2 separate regions of the Homo sapiens genome follow, and region 2 is linked to region 1. The links come from fine-mapping of genetic effects on gene expression. Tissue or cell type: whole blood. Region 1 holds a variant in brackets; the other region holds the start of a gene. All regions are shown on one strand. Distances are from middle to middle.

The links. PIP is the estimated chance that this variant, and not a neighbour inherited with it, causes the effect.
Region 2: BBS9 starts here. The variant in region 1 is fine-mapped to the expression of BBS9 in whole blood (TOPMed, PIP above 0.99).

What each region holds. Positions count from the first base shown.
Region 1 is chr7:33,150,061-33,158,060 of GRCh38, reverse strand. BBS9 (Bardet-Biedl syndrome 9) reads right to left here. Exons shown (of 23, transcript NM_198428.3): 3 at 5,210-5,360; 4 at 2,359-2,423. Among named protein-coding and RNA genes, the nearest start is that of BBS9, 24 kb to the right of the region's middle. The variant A/C (reference allele first, on the strand shown) is at 4,192.
Region 2 is chr7:33,122,604-33,134,852 of GRCh38, reverse strand. It overlaps BBS9 (Bardet-Biedl syndrome 9), which reads right to left and starts at 5,289. Exons shown (of 23, transcript NM_198428.3): 1 at 4,812-5,289. RefSeq lists enhancers at 5,227-5,336, 5,827-5,876 and a silencer at 5,387-5,686.

The DNA of each region.
Region 1 (8,000 bases):
ATGCCTCTTGAGAAGTACACATCTTTTGGAAAATAATATTTAAAACAACATAATCAGTACGGCTCACACTCACACATCTGTAACCATTTATTCAGAAACTGAAGCCCATCAGAAAGAAATCTGAGATGCCATGTGATGCTTTCTCTTTACCAGAGTATGATAAGATAGGCCAACTTCAGGTCAGCAAGACCCTGTTTTTTTCTCTATATTAAGCATACATTTGATGACACATAACCCACCAAAAAGAAGTTAGCAAAATAGCCTCTGACTATTAAGGGTTGTTAGGTATGTCCAGGAGACTGACCTTAGAAAGGCTCCTCTAGTTTGAAAATATTTGAGAAGGGAGCAGTTGAAGAAAAGGATGTCAAGTTCAGCTCACACGTTTGTCTGCTGACACTAGTGGTTTCACTTAAATTAGAAAATGTTTGTGCTTCCCCTGTGACAGTAAAAGCTAGGTAAAAGTTCAATCTGGAACTTCAAGAAACATATTCAAGAGAACAAAAACATTCCCATGCTTCTCAATTTAAGCCCAAGCCAGGAAAAATATACAAATTGTCAGCCCACATCACAAGAGGCTGAAGAAATGAAAGACAGAAGGGAAGTGAGGTGGGGCCTAAGAGAATGTAGTTTGGACAACTCCTAGTCCCCAGAGAATACAAAGCTTTTAAATGAACACAAAGAATAAAAGAGCTATAAAATCACCATTCCCATAGCAAATAACTTTCATTTTCAACACTTACTTGAAGGATATCAATATGCCATAAACAAATTGTCACCTAATATGCCAGTTTCTTTCAGTACGTTTTTCTGATAAGTACACTTTTTATCCCTTGTCTGTGCTCTAAGCCCCAGTGGAACTCCAGAGGCATCTGTCTTTTTGGCCCATAGTTCGAGCAGGACCAGGGAAGGCCTAGTGTCTAATCGAATTTCTAGCTTCTAAGATACCCTCCTCTCTGCCCTGCTTAGAGCCCCCATGGAGCTTCAGAAGGAACTAATTGCCAAAGAAGTATTCTGGGTAACTATAACTGTAGGCAAATTCTCCTCCATGGCTTGTGTAACCCACTTAGTAAAATAACAGGCTTACGGTCAAAAACAGAAGAACAACTAGATCCATGCAATAAAGTAGCCTATATCGTATGATAATACCTTCTCCATTTACTCTGGCATACTAAATAAATGCCCTGACACTAGGAGGAGCAACATGAAACCATGTCCTTTACCATAAAATCAATGAGAGCACACTTTATCAGGCCTCTGACATAAACAGAGTGGGAAATAAAATGATAGTGGTAACAGAGAAGGGGACGAAAACAGAACATGGTGAAGAGTAATAAAGAAAGCCACTGTCAATTGCCTCAGCACTACCCAGAAATTTGTTCATTCATTCATTCAACAAGTATTTACTGGATGTCTACCATATACCACGCCAGGTTACCAAGCCTGCCTTGGAAATCTAAAAGATCTTCACCCTGAAAAGAGACTGCCTAAGAATATCCAACTCAGTCAGTAAATATGCATCATTACTCAAATTGAAAGCAAAATACAAAGAAAGCCCAAATGAAGAGAATAAGTCTGAGAAATCCAAATCCTAGAAGGTAACATTTACAGCAAGCTCCAAAGGAGAGGATCTCTGGTAAAAGGAACAGCCTCACAGACACTTAGTTTTCTCATACCCATAAAAAAAATGCCCCCAACACTGACATCCATTAAAATAACTCTCAACTTGAACTAAACTTATCTAATAATTGAAATAAAAATTTTTAAGTTATATCTTACATTTAATAAAGGCCAAAATAAAATATAATAAAAACCAAACCACATACTATAATTTTAATAAAAACCAAACCGCACACTATACTTGTACCCACAGAACCATGTCAGAGAATGAAACCTGATGAAGCCTGACTGAGTGAAGACAACCAAAAACCAAGAAATTGGAACGGTAAAGAGAAAATACTTGAGGTTCACCAAAGAAAATGTACTTCAAACCACTATGACTTAGCATCTAATCAATTTTGTTATTGTAGAACATTTCTTAAGACTCAAGTGTCTTAAGTACCCAGAATTGGCCTCTATTAGTCACAGGCAATCCCGGAAACAATTCTGGAGAGGCAGGTGATTAAGAGGAATCCTCTGCTAGAAAGATACATATACACAGAAATAGTAGACCATGAAAATGTAATAGCCTAAGTATCTGAAAGAATAAATGAAAAATGGGAAAATGTTAACCAAGACAAGAAAACATTCAACTAAATGTTTTGTGTTCTCTACCAAGTCAGCACTAGGGAATATCTATTCTCATATAACATTAAGCCCAATTTGTAATATAAATTCTACATTGGTAAAAATATTTCTTACCTGAGACAGAGTAGACACAAAGTTTTCTAGAATGTAACACAGCCAAATGTAGCATTTCGGTACCTCTGAAAAACAGAGAAAGTTTTTAAAGTTTTCCAATATTAGCTTTAGACGTAACCAAAAAGTTGTAAAATAATTTCAAAAAGATCTCATAACCACAGCCACTGTGAGTAAACAAAACAATTCATTAGATAACATTCTAAACTGAAAAATAAATATAACAATAAACAGCCAATGTGACAACCCCAGAGGCTCAAGTACTCTGCCTCAAGGCACTGCCTTCAGATTGAAGCCAACAGAGCTTCCAAGAAAAAGTCAGATCTGAGGTCCTTCCCTAAGTGCTATTTCTTTCAATAAAGAAATCCAAGTTCTAGTCCTGGCTTTCTGACTAATTCATCCGTGACTTTGGGCAAGTCACTAAAATCTCCCTGAGCCTATTTCTCATGAAAAATAAGAGGTTCAATGAAATGAAATAAAATAATGTGAAACCATCTTGGAAAGGTTAAAACATCACAAAACACCAATCATTATTACAAGTAGCATATATCACTTCCATATCTGAAATTTTATTACAAGTATTGAAAATATTTCTGTTTGGACTAAATCTCAAATAGAAATAAACTACCAATATCACCACAACAATTCCCAGCCTATCTCAAGTGGTTTCCAGAAACTAGCATGGCACAGTCTAGAGATCCTAAATTCAGTTTTCAAGGATCAAGCCAGGGGTTGTTAATGAGTAAAGAGTGTAAATGGCTGTGATTAACTGGAGACTGAACCAGACTAAAGGAGGTGGCTATTACTTGGTTCTGGGCTTGGGGCCAGAGCCCCACATTTTTCAAGAAAAGCCAGAAAGCATTGGGTTTTATGTGAAATCTCTTGGTTCTTAAATGTTGACAGCTCTTTTAAATTTAAAATACTGAGCAGGCGGCCAGGTGTAATGGCTCACACCTGTAATCCAGCATTTTGGGAGGCTGAGGTGGGAGGGGGCGGTGGATCTCCTGAGATCAGAAGTTCGAGACCAGCCTGGCCAACATGGTGAAACCCTGTCTCTACTAAAAATACAAAAATTAGCCAGGCATGGTGGCACGTGCCTGTAGTCCCAGCTACTTGGGAGGCTGAGGCAGGAGAATTGCTTGAATCTGGGAGGCGGAGGTTGCAGCAAGCTGAGATCACGCCATTGCACTCCAGTCTGGGCGACGAGAGTGAAACTCCGCCTCAAAATAAAACAAAATAAAATACTGAACAGGCTCACATGTACAAGCAGGCCTCCAGTGTACAACGCCTGTTTAGAACAGACTGTTCTAAACTGCAAGGACTATAATTGAAGTCTGCAGACCTAGGTGGGGGTTCTGACTCTGCACCTTACTATATGTATGATCATTTAAACTTTCAGAGTGTTAGTATCTTATTTACAAATAAGAATCTTATTAGATAACATCTGCAAAACATTGTTACAATTAATATATACTCATCATTTGCTCTACTAGTAGAAAATGCAAATATACATGACTATCACATAATCAGTATCACCTTTGGAAATTTTGTATATGTACCCTGGACATTCAAAACAAGTTTTCCACCATGCTCAGGAAAAGAGCATGATGTCATAGAAAGGCCTAGTATACTATCTACTTAACAACGTTAACTTCCTCCCCTTCCAATGTGAGCACATAGATGAGGGCTATACTTAAGGACTACTATACAGAATGATTATTGGCTGTGTTTCACTTTTTTAATGGTAAGGTAAAAACACTTTTTAGCAGGAAGGATGCTTTTGTCTCCTTACTTTGTAAATCCATCACACCTAATATGTCCTAGGCACATGATGGG[A/C]ACCTAATCACCATCTGCTTTTAGATGGAGTAGATATTTACCAACCACTTCGGTCACAAAATCTCCGCAATCCAGCCTGTCACAAAGCATAAAAGTCTCATCTCATATCCCAGCCTAAAGCATCTAAGCTACAGCTTCCCAACAGAATAAAACATATCACTAGAAGAATGTGAATGCTCATGAGTGGTTGTTTGGTTTTCAAGCAGGAGTTAGGGCCCTGACTAAATGGCCCCTGGGGCCAATAAATTATGATAAACAAATGTAGAATGCCAAAATCCAGAGCTTAGGGTACTGCCCAGATTTAAAAAGGCAAAAGGGAGCTCAAAAAGAGGAGGCAAACTGACTCTGGCTACTTGATAAGTGTTCATCGTACTTCTAAATGATGAAGAAATACAAGCTTAATTTTAAGAAAGTTTGTGTATGAAAATAAGAGGATCAGCAATATCATCAGTAAATAAAAAGCAGACATATTACCCAAAGTTCAAACTAATAAACAGTTTTCTAAAATAAATTAGATTTAAGAATAAAGTACTTTGAAACAAAGCTCTTGTAGGGGGAAGACTTACTTTGTGGGTTGAACTGACTTCTTTCAAGAAACGATAGGGCATCTCTACCCCAAATAACTATTCATTTTAAAACCTCAAAGCTATGAACCAAAAAGTAATGGTTATCTGCTACTTCATCTAATTATAAATGGACACTTATATAACTTTAAATAAGTAGATACTTCTTATTTATTTCTTTATTTGGTTATTTTCAAAAGCTTATCTCTTTGTTTTTAAGCTTCTGATAATGTCAGGCATCTTAAGTCTATTACTATTAAAAGGCCCTAAATTATTATATCTTAAATGTACAGTTTCCACATAAAAAGCATTCCATACGTGAGAAACCCCTAGGTGACAATATCCAGAAAATATATTTAATTCATGGATAGTCTTCTTTGAAGAATACACAAAAGTGACACTGTAAAGGATTGACATACTCCAAGTAAAATACCAGAATTAGTGGGCTTACTTACGAAACAAACTTTCCTACTTCCACTTGAAGTACTGGATCTCGTAGATCCACTTCTAGAAGCAAATCTTCGGCTTGAGCTCCATCTCCTGTTTTTGCAGGATGGGGGCTAAAGATCCTTAGGTATCCCATAAAGCTACCCACAATTATTTTATCTGTAGAGAATTTAAAAAAAAAAAGATAGAGGGAGAAACAAACATTAGCAAATCTCTTAGGAAATAAGCTTTCTAATGTGTAAAAGAGAAATCTAAAAATTAAAAGAATTCAGTCTTGCTTTATACACAAAGGCCACTCTGTCAAAAAAGGTGTAATTAAAGAGTACTTATTTTAATAACACACAGCTTTCATAAATAGCTTTACATCCCTATAGTCAAATGTACTAACATATTGCATTTTTTCCTAAACCTTTATTTGGTATCAAAGTCATAATTTAACTCAATCAAAGCAAGCCCCTTTATCAAAGGACTAGTACAATGTTGTAAACTGATTCCATCATAGAGGCCAACTCTATAACTGCTTGTGGCTGTCGAAAACACTGTATTAAAAAGGATTCTGAGTCGTCACTAGATAGAGTGCCTTGATAAGCAATGTTTCATCTTAAGTACAAGCAGGGGAAATGATAGAATGGGTGTTGTAAGTTAAATTGTGTCCCCCCAAAAAAAGATACGTTAAAGTCATAACCCCAGGTACCTCTGAATGTGACCTGATTTGGAAACAGAGTCTTTGCACATGTAATCAAGTTAAAATGAGGTCCAGTTAATTAGATGTGTGATCAAACTCAATTAGTGTCCTTTAAGAGGACAGAACAGAGACATGGAGGGAATGGCATGCAAAGCTGAGTGCAGTGGCATGCCCCTGTAGTCCCAGCTACTTGGGAGGCTGAGGTGGAAGGACTGCTTGAGCCAAGGAGTTCAAGGCTGCAGTGAGCTCTAATCGTGCCACTGTACTCTAGCCTGGGCGAAAGAACAAGACCTTGTCACTGAAAAAAAAAAAAAAAAAAAAAAAGGCTGGGTGCAGTGGCTCATGCCTGTAATCCTAGCACCTTGGGAAGCCGAGGCAGGCAGATCACTTGAGATCAGGAGTTCGAGACCAGCCTGGCCAACATGTTGAAACCCTATCTCTACTAAAAATAGAAAAAATTAGCTAGGTGTGGTGGCGCATGCCCGTAATCCCAGCTACCCAGGAGGCTGAGGCAGGAGAATCGCTGGAATCCGGGAAGTGGAGGCTGCATTGAGCCGAGACAGTGCCACTGTACTCCAGCCTGGGTGACACAGCAAGACTCCATCTCAAGAAAAAAAAAATCCTCATAATAACCCTATGAGAGAGGTATAATCCTGGGAACTTCAATACTGGAGGCTTACAAGGTCTCTGGAGCCATGCCCATTCCTGTCCCCACTAAAGGCTTGTTCAGTTCAACTCTGCCTGCATTGGGAAAGCTATCTTACATTCATTCCAGCACCTTCTGTACTTAAATCTATCAGTTTCCTGTCACTTGTGGCCAAAAAAAAAGATAACTGATATAGAAATGAGCACTAGAAAATAAACTGCAGGCATGCAAACATGCAAGCATATTTGGAATTGGTTCTTCTTTTTTTTTTTCCTTTGAGACAGGGTCTCACTCTGTTGCCCAGGCTTGAGTACAGTGATGCAATCACAGCTTGTTGCAGCCTCAACCTCCCAGGCTCAATTGATCCTCCCACCTCAGCCTCCTGAGTGGCTGGGAATACAGGCATATGCCTTCATGCCCAGCTAATTTTTGTATTTTTTGTAGGGATGTGGTTTTGCCATGTTGTCTGGGCTGGTCTCAAACTTCTGGACTCAAGCAATCTACCTGCCTTGGCCTCCAAAGTATGGGAATTGGTTCTTGACCTGAAATGCGGTACAAAACAGTAAGATTCCTTGTGGGGACAAGAGTAACTTTATTTTAAATGCTAATCTGCCATGTGACTCCTGACTAAACTCAAGTCCAAGAACTCCTCTAAGATCTCTAGTTGATGTATTACTCTTTATGCAGAAACATCTATTCATTTTAAGTTTTGCCTTTCCTCCAAAACAGCACTTGATGTTGCTGCATACATCATAGGCTGTGACACTCATAGCCACCTACACATTCTTCTCAGAGCATGTATACTTTTTTTCCCCAAGATACAAGCCCTGGGTCTGGGGGTTGTGGTGTGGAGAGCTGCCTGTCTTGCAACTGCCCAGGACATTTCTGCCCATAAGTTCACCTAATAAATCACTGTATACTGACAAACTGGATTTGTCTGCCTCAATCTTTGGTTCTCAGCTCCTTCAGTATTTGAGGGCCACTTTGCGTATATGCCCTTTCACAGAACACTCCCATTCATGTTCTAGGTGGGGTTAAGTATCACTTTACATTGTAACAGAACAATTAATCAAGTTATCATCTCTAGTCATCTGGGACCCTGTGCCCATTGCAGGTGAAACTCTAGTAGACTGGACAGCTGCTGCCATAGCCAGCTGAACAAGGAGGAACACCAAACCACATGTAAGATAGCTTTATCGAAGATAGCTTTATTTAAATTAAATTGGATAATTTAAAATAAAAGAATGATAGGTTTAAATCTCAAAATTGTCATCTAAGGGTAAAGAATAAAACTCAGGGTCTTTGGTACTCTGCAGAAACATTTCTCACCACTTACTACTCAGATAGTGGGGCTTAATCACTGAGAAGCTCATTCAGAGACTGATTCTTTAAGTTTTAAATTACAATAACAAATGACCTGACAAATCTCTCCAGCCTTCTTAAGTAAAAGTAAAGGCACTGATCAGGA
Region 2 (12,249 bases), 25 kb after region 1:
AGGCTGAGGCAAGGAAACTGCTTAAGCCTGAGAGATTGAGAAGAGCCTGGGCAACAAAGCGAGACCGCATCTATACAAAAAAGAAAAAATAAGCTGGGCATGGTTGTGTGTGCCTATAATCCCAGCTACTTGAGAGGCTGAGGCAGGAGTTTGAGGATTGAGCCCAAGAGTTTGAGGTTGCTGTGAGCTAAAATCATGCCACCACACCTCTCAGCTTGGGCAGCAGAGTGAGACTCTATCTCAAAAAAACAAAATAAATGAATAAAGTAGACTTTATCAAAACTAAAAACTTTTAGGTTTCAAAGGTCACCATCAAGAAGATGAAATGATGGGAGAAAATATTTGCAAATCATGTATCTGATAATATACAAGAACTCATACAACTCAGTAATTTAAAAAAGTCAATTAAAAATGAACAATGGGTCTGAATAGGTATTTTTCCAAGTAAGATATACAAATGGCCAATAAGAACATAAAAAGATGCTCAAGGCCAGGCGCAGTGGCTCACGCCTGTAATCCCAGCACGTTGGGAGGCCAAGGTGGGTGGATCACCTGAGGCCAGAAGTTCGAGACCAGCCTGGCCAACATGGTGAAACCCCATCTCCACTAAAAATACAAAAAAAAAAAAAAAAAAAAATAGCCAGGCGTGATGGCAGGTGCCTGTAAGCCCAATTACTTGGGAGGCTGAGGCAGGAGAATTGCTTGAACCTGGAGGCAGGGGTTGCAGTGGGCCAAAACCACACCATTGCACTCCAGCCTAGGGAACAAGAGCAAAACTCCGTTTCAAAAAAAAAATGCTCAGCATAATTAGTCATTAGGGAAACACAAATCAAAACTATGAGATATGACTTCACACCTACTATGACAGAATCGAAGTCAGATAGTAATAAGCATTGGTGAGGATGTAAAGAAATCAGAGCCCTCATATACTGCTAGTGAGAATGCAAAACGATGCAACCACTTTGGAAAGGAATCTAGAAGTTCCTCTAACACTTAAACACAGAATTACCATATGACCCAGCAATCTGACACTGAAGTATCTATCCAAGGGCAATGAAAACATATGTGCATACAAAAAAACTTACACATAAATGTTTATAGTAGCATTATTCATAATATCTAAAATTTGGAAACAACCCAAATGTCCATCAGCTGATGAATATATAAACAAAAGGAAGCATCCATACAGTGGAATATTATTTGGCCATAAAAAAGAAAAGAACAAAATACTGATATATGTTACAACATAAATAAATAAAAGCATATAGGTTTTAGAATCAGACATATCTGGCTCTTAAAAACATGCTAAGTTAAAGAAGCCAGTAACAAAAGGCCACCTATTATATGATTCTGTTTATATAAAATATCCAGGATAGGCAAATTCATAAAGACAGAAAGTAGATTCTTAGTTGCTTAGGTCTGGGGGTAGGGGAGAAGGAAGAGAGAAGGAGAGTTATAGCTAAGGGATGCGAGGTTTCTTTTTGAGTTGATAAAAATATTCCAAACTTGGCTGTGGTAATGGTTACATGTATCTGTGAATATACAAAAAAGGAACTGAATTTTATGTGTTAAATGGGTGAATTGTATGGTATTTGAATTGTATTTCAACAAAGCTGTTTTTTTTTAAAGATAACAAATGATGATGGATACATGGGGGTTCATTTTGTTATTCTTCATGCTTTTGGTTATGCTTCAAATTCCCCATAAACTTTCATTTTTTTTTAAAGCAGAACACTCCTGTATTTTGGCCACATTTACCATTAGGCCAGGTGTGGTGGCACACACCTGTAATCCCAGCACTTTGGGAGGCCAAGGCGGATTGATCACTTGAGCTAAGGAGTTCAGGACCAGCCTGCGCAACATAGTGAGACCTCATCTTTGCCAAGCATGGCAGAAAAAATAAAAATTATTACAACTTTTTTAAATATTAAAAAAAGAACAATAGCAAATTAAATTCAGAAGGTCAGCAAAATAAATTCTGCCCTTTCTCCTGGAAGACATCCCAAGTCATCAAGAAAATGAAAAATTAGCCATAAATTGAGACACAAATAAAATGCTAATCTGTATTCCAATCTAGGAAAGATATAGGCCTTGACATTGAGATATTAAGATAAGCAGGTAGGTGTGGGAGGTCTGGTACTGACAGGTTAGGAAAGATGGTAAGGAACAATAGTAATAAAACATTTTTTGGTCATGAAACCTGGCTTTTGGGTTACAAAATAAACAAAAAGTGTTTTAAATAACAAAAAATAAAATATGTATACAATGTTTTTTTAATTCAGTTTAGTTAACTGTCTTGAATAAGGAACCGAGGTTTGCATTTTATCCCCTTTTCATTCAGTGTTGATTTCCAGTTGCTCACTGATTTGTCTTTAAGTAATTGGAAAATAAAAACCAGGTTTTTAATGACTTCGCCTTAAAGGAAAGTATCTACTAATCATTTACTAAAGCCAGTCAGGATTCTAAATGCTTTGCAAGCATTCTATTTTGATATTCATAACAAAACTACAAAGTAAATTGTAGATACTATTATTCAGGTATCCTTGAATACAGAGAAGTTAAGAAATCCGTGCCAGTGGTCTCACTAGTTAAGTGATGTGCGGTACCTAAACCCAGACTGTCTACTCCAGAACCCTAAACAAACGGCCTATGCACACGCCCCTCCATGTAGACTATAAAAGCAATAGCTCTATTCACACTAATTCTAAACACTACAAGTTCAAACTACAGGCAAGTATGTCATAAATTTGATTAAATTGTTAAAGGATGATTAGAAGACAATAATTTGAAGGTTGTAACAGGTGCAGTCCTATAAACAGGCATAACAGATTAGTTTCTAATGCCTTATTAGAATAATAAATGGGAGATAATCTCCTTATCCCCTAAACTCCAGAAATTCTCTTCTATACTCTTCACTTGACACTTTTTTGTTTTGAATACTTTTTTTTCTACAACAAGTTTACTCAGATTTAGGTTTCATTTAAGAGGTGGCTGACCTTTTTTTGCTGACCTTCTGAATTTAATTTGCTATTGTTCTTTTTTTAATATTTTAAAAAGTTTTAATAATTTTTATTTTTTCTGCCATGCTCGGCAAAGACGAGGTCTCACTATGTTGCCCAGGCTGGTCTTGAACACCTCATTGACCTAGTCCTACAATATGATCAGCTGTGAAAACAATAACCCCAAAGAATGCTGTGGAAAAAACATACAGGTTTGAAGGTCAGTTCTGGAAACAGACCTTGCAGCTGTTGTTCATTTTCAGAGCTTTGCTTTCTCCAGGTTATGCCAGTGTCACACCAAATTTAAGAAAGTAGAAATCAGGTCTTCCAGTCAAAGAAAGATGACAAATGCATGTAGTGTTCAAAAGAAGTATACTGCTTTTGAAGGCAATAATACAAGGGCTCACTGTTGGAATTTTCAACAAAAGACTCAAAGGGCAAAATAACACAAAATTTGGAGTAGGACAGCTCTGGGTGCACTTTCTGACCACGTTACACTACATGATCTTAAACAAGTCCCTTATCCTCTAGTATCTCAATTGTTCTAGGGTGGAGGAGGATAAAATGGCTCAACCCATAGCAAGTACTCAATAGATGTCAGTAATAACCCAACAGTAGAAACAGTGCTAGTAGGAGAGACAGTGGTAGTAGTGGTAGTTGAAAGAGACGGTGGTAGTGTGTTCTGTGCAAGACACAATTACGAATGCCAAACTCACCCTCTGGACCGAAATTTTAAATGGGACTCACAAAGACTGATAGTAATCACTAATGGAAATGTTATTAACCAGCAGGGATGTTTTATAATAATTTCATGTATTTTAATAATTTTCAAAAATATTTCAAAGTATTCTAAAGCGTAAGACTTACTACATCCCTCAAAAGGTGTAAAAGTTTTAAAATTACTATATATACTATTGCTGTTGGATTTTTTCCCTTCAGTGAGCATTTCTATCAAGAAGTTGTACCATAAATATAAGTGTATAGTTGTAATTTAACCACGACAATTACACACAAGGAAAAATCCCTTAAACTCTGACAAATAACTTGTAACTTATTTTCAAAATAAAGTTTTTTAAAATTCTTCTTTAAAAACTTCTGGGTTTTCTAGTTTTTTTTTTAATTCTTCCGTATATTCATGAAAAAAATCTCAGTAATTGTTTTCTTTATAAAATGCTAATAAGTTAGAAAATCTTTCTCTGAATGCTGGCCAACTTAAGACCCATAGCTTATCCTGCAGCATCTTTCAAGTTGTTTATCAATGAGGACATGTAAGATGTGTATACCTGTAAGATACGGTTTCATTTTTAAAGTAAAAGTGAGATACCCAAAAAAATACATTTCTCCAGGAAATTGAAGTCAAAGGCAGGATTTGACTGGCAGGAGGTGCTGATAAAATCAGCGCAGCTCATCTAAACTGTTGTGGTCTCCAAGTAACAAGAGGAGAAACAATAATCCTATTACTAGAAGGATTGGGGGTATTAGTACATGCATCCTACTTCAGTCGTAGGCTGGGAACTGCTTTGCCCATTTACTCACAGACCTGTTGAAGTGTCTCAGGAGGATGCTCATGCTCCAAGTGACATTCCTCAATGGAATCCTTAAAAATTCTCATCCCTTTTTTCTCAAAAGTACTCACAGAATCTCATACACTTTGTGCTCCTAGTGTTTGTTTATTTCAGTGCAAACATCTAAGAAATCAATCACCTTACAGACTCCAAACCATTATACTGCATTAGAGAATCTTGTTCACAAAATAAAACATGGAAAGGGTATTCATGTACCCGAAGTTTAACAACAGACATACCATCTTACCTGATGCCACGTCAGATGAGCTCTGCCCCACCTTTCTGCGAACCCTCGTTCGGCAAATTTTGCTTTATGAACGCCTGACAAGGTCCCAGTGATGGAGCAGAGGGAGCAAGAACGGACGGTGCAGAGAAAAGCAACCTTTAGCTTCACTATTCCCTCTCGTCCTCCAGCTGAAAGTTGTTCCACGTCCCGGGCAAAGAGAGAGCCCCACCAGGCAGCACCACCAGCTCCACAGAGTTGGAGTGATTCCCCCAAGAAGCTCCCCTGCGCCCCCCGTCACCCCCAGAGACCAGCAGAGGAAACGGCATCTATCCCTTGGAAGACACTAGGCAGGCGAGAACAAATGCAAGTCCTGCTGCTCACACCGAGGAGGAAAGGATGGAGGAGGCGGTGAATGGGATGTAGCAGAAACCCGACGGCCGCAGCGGAAGGGACACCTCCCCTCTCCAGCCTAACTCTGAGCCATCTTCGCCCTGTTGTCATAGCACTTACAACGGACGCCACTGCGCAGGTCACGCCGTGCCGCGCCGACTTCTGGGGGCTGGAGTCCAGAGAGGCTGAGGCGCAAAGGCGGGGACCGACTTCTGAGAGGGCCGCGGTTGGAATTAGATTGCTACTGGGGCGGGGCTCGAGTGAACCACGGCCTGGTCCTCATTAGCAGAGAGTGATAATTACTGCAATCCTCTGCCCTGTCCTGGCAGCAGTTCCTTAAGGAAGACCCTCCTCCTGCCTGGGCTCCGGGGGCAGGCCACGCCCCCCCGGCCGCGTGACCGCCCTCTCCCCTCGGTGCGTGTGGGTGGGGCCTAGTGGGGGCGGGGCGTCACTGGCTTGTCCATGGTGCTCTGGGATCCTGCGCTTCTGAGAGTCCCAATCGCGGTGTTTTTTTCCTGCCGGGACACTCATGAGGGCCCCGTCCATGCACCGCGCGACCGTGGCGAGGGTGGTCGCGGTAGCGAGCGCCAGCGTGTGCGCCCTGGTGGCGGGGGTGGTGCTGGCCCAGTACATATTCACCTTGGAGAAGAAGGCGAGGCGGAAGACCAAGATCATCGAGATGATGAAGCTTTTGAACAGTTTCCAGTTTTTCCTTTTTTTACTATTTGAAACAGCGCTGCTTTGAAGTTACTTGTGCCTGCGTCCTGATACACATGTGTTAAATATATTTTCCGTATATACCTTAGAGTGCATTTCCTGGTATATGGGATTGGATCTATGTCTTCTTTTGTTTTTTACTTATTTTTTTTTAATCTTTACATTCAAATTCAATGTAGCCAACCTTGAAGTTTTTCTTGTTTGCTTTTTTCAATGGATTCTAGTGTAGGCTTTAAATTTCCAGTATTTCACCATCAATCCACAAATCCACATTCCCAGTAGAAAATACCATTCTAGTTTTAGTTTTTTGGGTTTTGGGTTTTTTTTTTTTTTTTAACTGAGACTGGGTCTCCCTGACAGGGTCGCCTAGACTGGAGTGCAGTGACAGGATCACTGCTCACTGAAGCACTGAAGCCTCAGCCTCCCGGGCTCAAACGATTCTCCCACCTTAGCCTTCCTAGTAAGCTGGGACTACAGGCACAGACCACCACACCTGGCTAATTTTTGTATTTTTTGTAGAGATGGAGTTTCGCCATGTCCAGGTTGCTCTCGAACTCCTGGGTTCAAACGATCCACCCACCTCAGTCCCCCAAAGTGCTGGGATTGCTGGCGTGAGCCACCGCGTCCGGCCTCAATATTTTTAAAAATGACCTTTCAGTCAAAGCCTTGGTAATATAACCAGTTTCCAATTGTATTCTGCTATACAGAGAGAGCAGATTTTTATTAGACTTATTGAAATGACCATATTACCATAAGAAGACTCACAAATGGTTTTCTAATTATGGAGGAATCAAGTAAAGAGAAAAAAAGTTTTTATCTTTTTTTACACAAGTATACTCTATCAAATTGCTGTAAATTATAAATAGCTTAAAAGACAAGATTTTCTTAAATCTGGAAAAAACTATTTGAGTAAAGAACCAACAACATTTGAAATAATATCATAAAAACATTGTCTTCATTAGTTAAACTCACGTAATTAATTCTTGTTCTGCCTGATCTTGATTAATAGTTTCATGAACCCACTTTTTTATTACAGTTCTGGAAATTGTTATATTGTCCATTGATCTTCAAGTTGTTAGAAACCCAAATCTAAGAGTATATTTTAGGGCCAGGCACAATGGTTCATGCCGGTAATCCCAGCAATTTGGGAGGCCAAGGCGGGAGGATCATTTGAGGCCAGGAGTTGGAGAAAAGCCTGGCCAATATAGTGAAACCCCATCTCTACTAAAAATACAAAAAATTAACCCAGCGTGGTAGCGCATGCCTGTAATCCCAGCTACTCAGGAGGCTGAGGCATGAGAATCACTGGAACCAGGGAGGCAGAGGTTGCAATGAACCAGGATCGTGCCACTGCACCCCAGCCTGGGCATCAGAGCAAGATTGTCTCAAAAATAAATAAATAAAAATAAAAGAGTACTTGTTAGAATATTTTCCAGGAGTCTGTTTTTTAAAAAAGAATTCAAAACAATAATATGGATGACAAAAACTTAAAATAGCCATGGTTAAAAATCTGATGAAGTTAACAACTGAGAAGAACATTTATTTATTGCTATTATATACAGTATTTTAAGATAACCAGAATTATGACTGGTAATATAATACATTTGTACGAATTTTTTTTAAAGATGGGGTCTTGCTCTATTGCCCAGGCTAGAGTGCAGTGGCACATTCATAGCTGACTGCAATCTCAAACTCCTGGACTCAAGCAATCCTTCTGCCTCAGCCTCTCAAGTAGCTGGGACTACACGTTTGTACCACCATGCTTGGTTTTTTTTTGGTTTTTTTTGTTTTTGTTTTGTTTTGTTTTGTTTTAATAGAGACAGGGTCTTGTTTTGTTGCCCAAGCTGGACACAAATTCCTGGCTATAAGTAATCCTCTGACCTCAGCCTCCCAAAGTGTTGGGATTATAGGCATGAGCCATCATTCCCAGCATACTTGTATGGACTTATATAATTTTTCAAACATTCATATAAACAATATTCCCATAAATGCAAATAAAAGAAAAATCTAGTATCAGTTATCGTTTGACAATATTTCTTATAAAATTTACCAAATAACCCAAATCATTTAATACCTCTAAAAGATGAGAAAGATATGTTTTAATGCTTTCCAGGAGTCCAACTGGAAAATTCCAAAGTTAATTCTACATTTAAAAAACTTAAATTGGAATTTGATTTTGAGGAAGTTTTTAAAGGGCTCAAAACACTGTATCAATACAGAATCACAAGTTACTTGTGAAATAAGTCATTTATATAACCAGAGTGATAATCAAAAGGCTTAAAAAGCCATACAAATAATTACATTAAAACTATCTTAACCATTTTAAACTTCAGGTTAAAAAAAAATCAAATCTAATAAAAGCAACACAGGAAATTATGTTGATAAAATGTATAATCTTCCTTAGGCCAGGTACCAAAAAAGTAAAGAAAAACTTTCTGCAATGTGATTGTTTCTCCTTTTGGGGAGCTCATTTAGATAACCTGGAGGTCGAATCTGATGAAAAGGGTACTTGAATTTAATCAGATACAGGAAGATGTGTCCCAGGTCATGATTATAACAATTCACATGTATCAAGAAAAGCCAAGAGTACAGAATCAAGTTATATTGAAAAAGAGCATTGATTTCTAGGCCTTCAGGATAAACCTTTAGTGTCAGGCCATACCAGCAATTAGAACCAAAAAAAAAAAATTGTATAGCAACTGATGAAAAAATTGAAGGAGAGAGTTACCATCCCAGGCTTTCTAAAGAGGAGAAAACCTGAATGCAATGATATATGACCTGGAAATCAAATAGCAAGACATGGCAAATTTGAACCACTGAGATACGAAATCTGAGAAATTTCAAAAGCAAAACTCTACCTCAAGAAATGATATTACCAGACGGGTGCAATGTCCATAATCCAAGCACTTTGGGAGGCCGAGGTGGGCAGATCGTTTGAGCCCAGGAGTTCGAGACCAGCCTGGGCAACATGACAAAATCCTGTCTCTACAAAAAATACAAAAATTAGCCGGGCGTGGTTACGTGTGCCTTTAATCTCAGCTACTAAGGGGGCTGAAGTTGGAGGACTGCTTGAGCCCAGTAGGTCAAGACTGCAGTGAGCCATGATCGTGCAACTACACTCCAGCCTGCATGACAGAGTGAAACCCTATCTCAAAAAAAAAAGCAAAGAAATTATTATTTTAAATGAAGAAGACAGCATTTTTAATGTGAAACTAGGGAAATTAAATGAATCTCAGTGAAAAAAGGTGGCAGAAATAGAAACTGCCTGCAGTTTAGGGGATAGCAGTTAAAGAAATAGATTTTAGAATTCAAAATGAAAGCTTCTTACAATTTTATCAGGAGCAGATCAATACTTCAAGAAAATGTTGTTTTAAAAATGGAGGACCAGGCTCTGGTCCTGTATCAGTGCACCTCCAACATTAATGTTTAAATTTTAGAAAACCACTTATAAACTATTTATTTTTAATTCTGGCCAACCTGATCATTCATAAAAGTTTTCTCACAGGCCTATTATTCATAAATGCTCTTTGACTTGCTTAGACATTTTCTCATTTTTTTAACCCCCAAGTCTTTGTCCTACCATTTTTCATTTTTTAAAAAAGCCAATTATTTTATAGGACTAAAATTTACTATTCAAGATTATTTATCATACAAAAGTATTTTTTCCTAAATTCATTTTTGATTAATAGATATAAATATATTTATAATTTTATAAACTTTAAAAAGCCAAAAATGAACTTATATTTATTCAGTGGTTTGTTTCCATTTTTATCTTATTTGGATGTGATCCAGACATCGTATCTACTATTTAACATAATATAACTTCAGGATTTTAAATTACATAAAAATTTTATTTATAAATATTTATTCTATTTACAATTAACTAATTTATTTTTTATCAATTACATCTAGATTACTTCTTAAAACTGAAATATAAGACAAAGCTAGTCATTGTTGTGTTTATTAACAAGTTTCATATCTGTTAATATCAAGTATTTATCTAAGTAAAAACTTTAAAGTTAAATACATGGGTATCCTGTTGATAACTCAGAAGATATAGCTGTTTTAAGTATATCAACAACATTAAATTAATCTTATATATTAAGGAATTTCACAACAAGGTCATTCTGTTTTAGACTGGGTTTATAGCATCATGACCTTAAAACGTCTAGCAAAAACAAATATAAAATGATCTGACCAGGCCGGGCACGGTGGCTCACGCCTGTAATCCCAGCATTTTGGGAGGCCGAGGCGGGCGGATCACAAGGTCAGGAGATCGAGACCATCCTGGCTAACACGGTGAAACCGCCTCTCTACTAAAAACACAAAAAATTAGCCGGGCTAGGTGGCGGGCGCCTGTAGTCCCAGCTACAAGGGAGGCTGAGGCAGGAGAATGGCGTGAACCCTGGGGGGCAGAGCCTGCAGTCAGCCGAGATTGCGCCACTGCACTCCAGCCTGGGTGAAAGAGCGAGACTCCTTCTCAAAAAAAAGATCTGACCAGTAAACCTAGGCAAAAATGTATGTTGACAATTTTAAAACAAATTAATTAATGAAATATTTAGTTAAGTCACATAAACTAAAAAGGGAGGGTTATTTGCTATATATTTTATATGAGCCCTCATTTTTCTCACTTAATAAAATGTTCATGGATTTTTGGCTATGACAGACTTTATTATGTAAACACACCACATAACACATGTAGACATGCATAAACACATTTAAACATGTTTCCATAAGTAGAAATAAAGTTCTTATAGCTTTTATTTTAGATTTTTAATCATGACATAGTAAATTATATAAACTCAGATGAGAGGTGGAGCAAGATGGCAAAATAGAAGCCTGCACCAAGCATCCCCCAACAAGGACAGCAATTTAAAACTCCCTACACAGAAAAAAGCACCTTCACGAGAAGCAAAATCAGGTGAACAGTCACAGTACCTGGTTTTGTTTTTGTTTTGTTTTGTTTTTGAGACAGAGTCTCACTCTGTCACCCAGGCTGGAGTGCAGTGGCACAAGCTAGGCTCACTGCTACATTCATCTCCCAGGTTGAAGCGACTCTCCTGCCTCAGTCTCCTGAGTAGCTGGAATTACAGGCACATGCCACCACGCCCCACTAATTTTTTGTATTTTTGGTAGAGACGAGGTTTCACCATGTTGGCCAGGCTGGTCTCAAACTCCTGAACTCAAGTGATCCTCCCACCTTGGCCTCCCAAAGTGCTGAGATTACAGGCGTGAGCACCACACCCAGCCAGTACCTGGTTTTAACTTAATATTGCTGAAAGAGGCACAGAAGAAGTAGAAAAAAGTCTTGAATTGCCAACACCACTCCTCCCACACTCCCCAGCAATGGTTGCATGGTGTAAAGAGCATTTCTGTGCACTGGGGAAGGGGGAATGCAGCAAATTTAAGGCGCTGAACTCAGTGCTGCCCTGTTATAGCAGAAAGGAAAACTGGACAAAACTCAGCTGACACCTGCCCGTGGAGAAAATACTTAAAGCAGCCCTAGCCAACAGGAAATCACCAATCCCAGCAGTCAGAAGTTGAGTTCCCTCAAGTATCATGACAATGATCTAAAGTACTTTGGGGCTGTAAGTAAACTTGAAAGGCAGTCTAGGCCACAAGGACCACAACTCCTAGGTGAGTCCTAGGGCTGAAATGGGCCCAGAGCCAGTGGACTCAGGGGGCACATGGCCTACTGAGACACCAGCCAGGGCAGTTGTGGGAGTGCTGGCATCAACTCTCACCTAGTCCAGGCTGCACAGCTTGTGGCTTCAAAAGAGACTCCTTCCTTCCACTTTAGGAGAGGAGAGGGAAGGATGGGGAGGACTTTGTCTTGCACCCTGTATACTAGCTCAGTCACAGCAGGATAAGGCACTGGTCAGAGTCATGAGGCCACCCCCCATTTCAGGCCCTAGTTCCCAGATGGTGTTTCTACACACAACGTGGGCCAGTAGGGAACCTGCTGCCTTGAAGGGAAGGACCTAGTTCTGGCAGGATTCATCACCTGCTAACTGAAGAGCCCTTGGGCACTAAACAACCAGCAGTAATACACATGTACTACATTGAGGGCCTTCGGTGATACTCTGAGACTTATATGGCTTCATTATTGGCTGAGGTGAGACTCAGCACATTGCAGATGTGGTTACTATGGAGCAAGAGTCTTCATGCTTGAGAAAAGCAGAGGGAAGAGTAAAGGGACTCTGTCTTGCACCTTAGGTACCAGCTCAGCCAGAGGTGAGTAGAACCCAAAGCGGGCTCATGGGGTCCCCAATTCCAAGACTTGGCTCTTGGATGGTATTTCTGCACCTGCCCTGGGTCAAAGGAGAACCCACTGCCCTGAAGGGTGAGACCC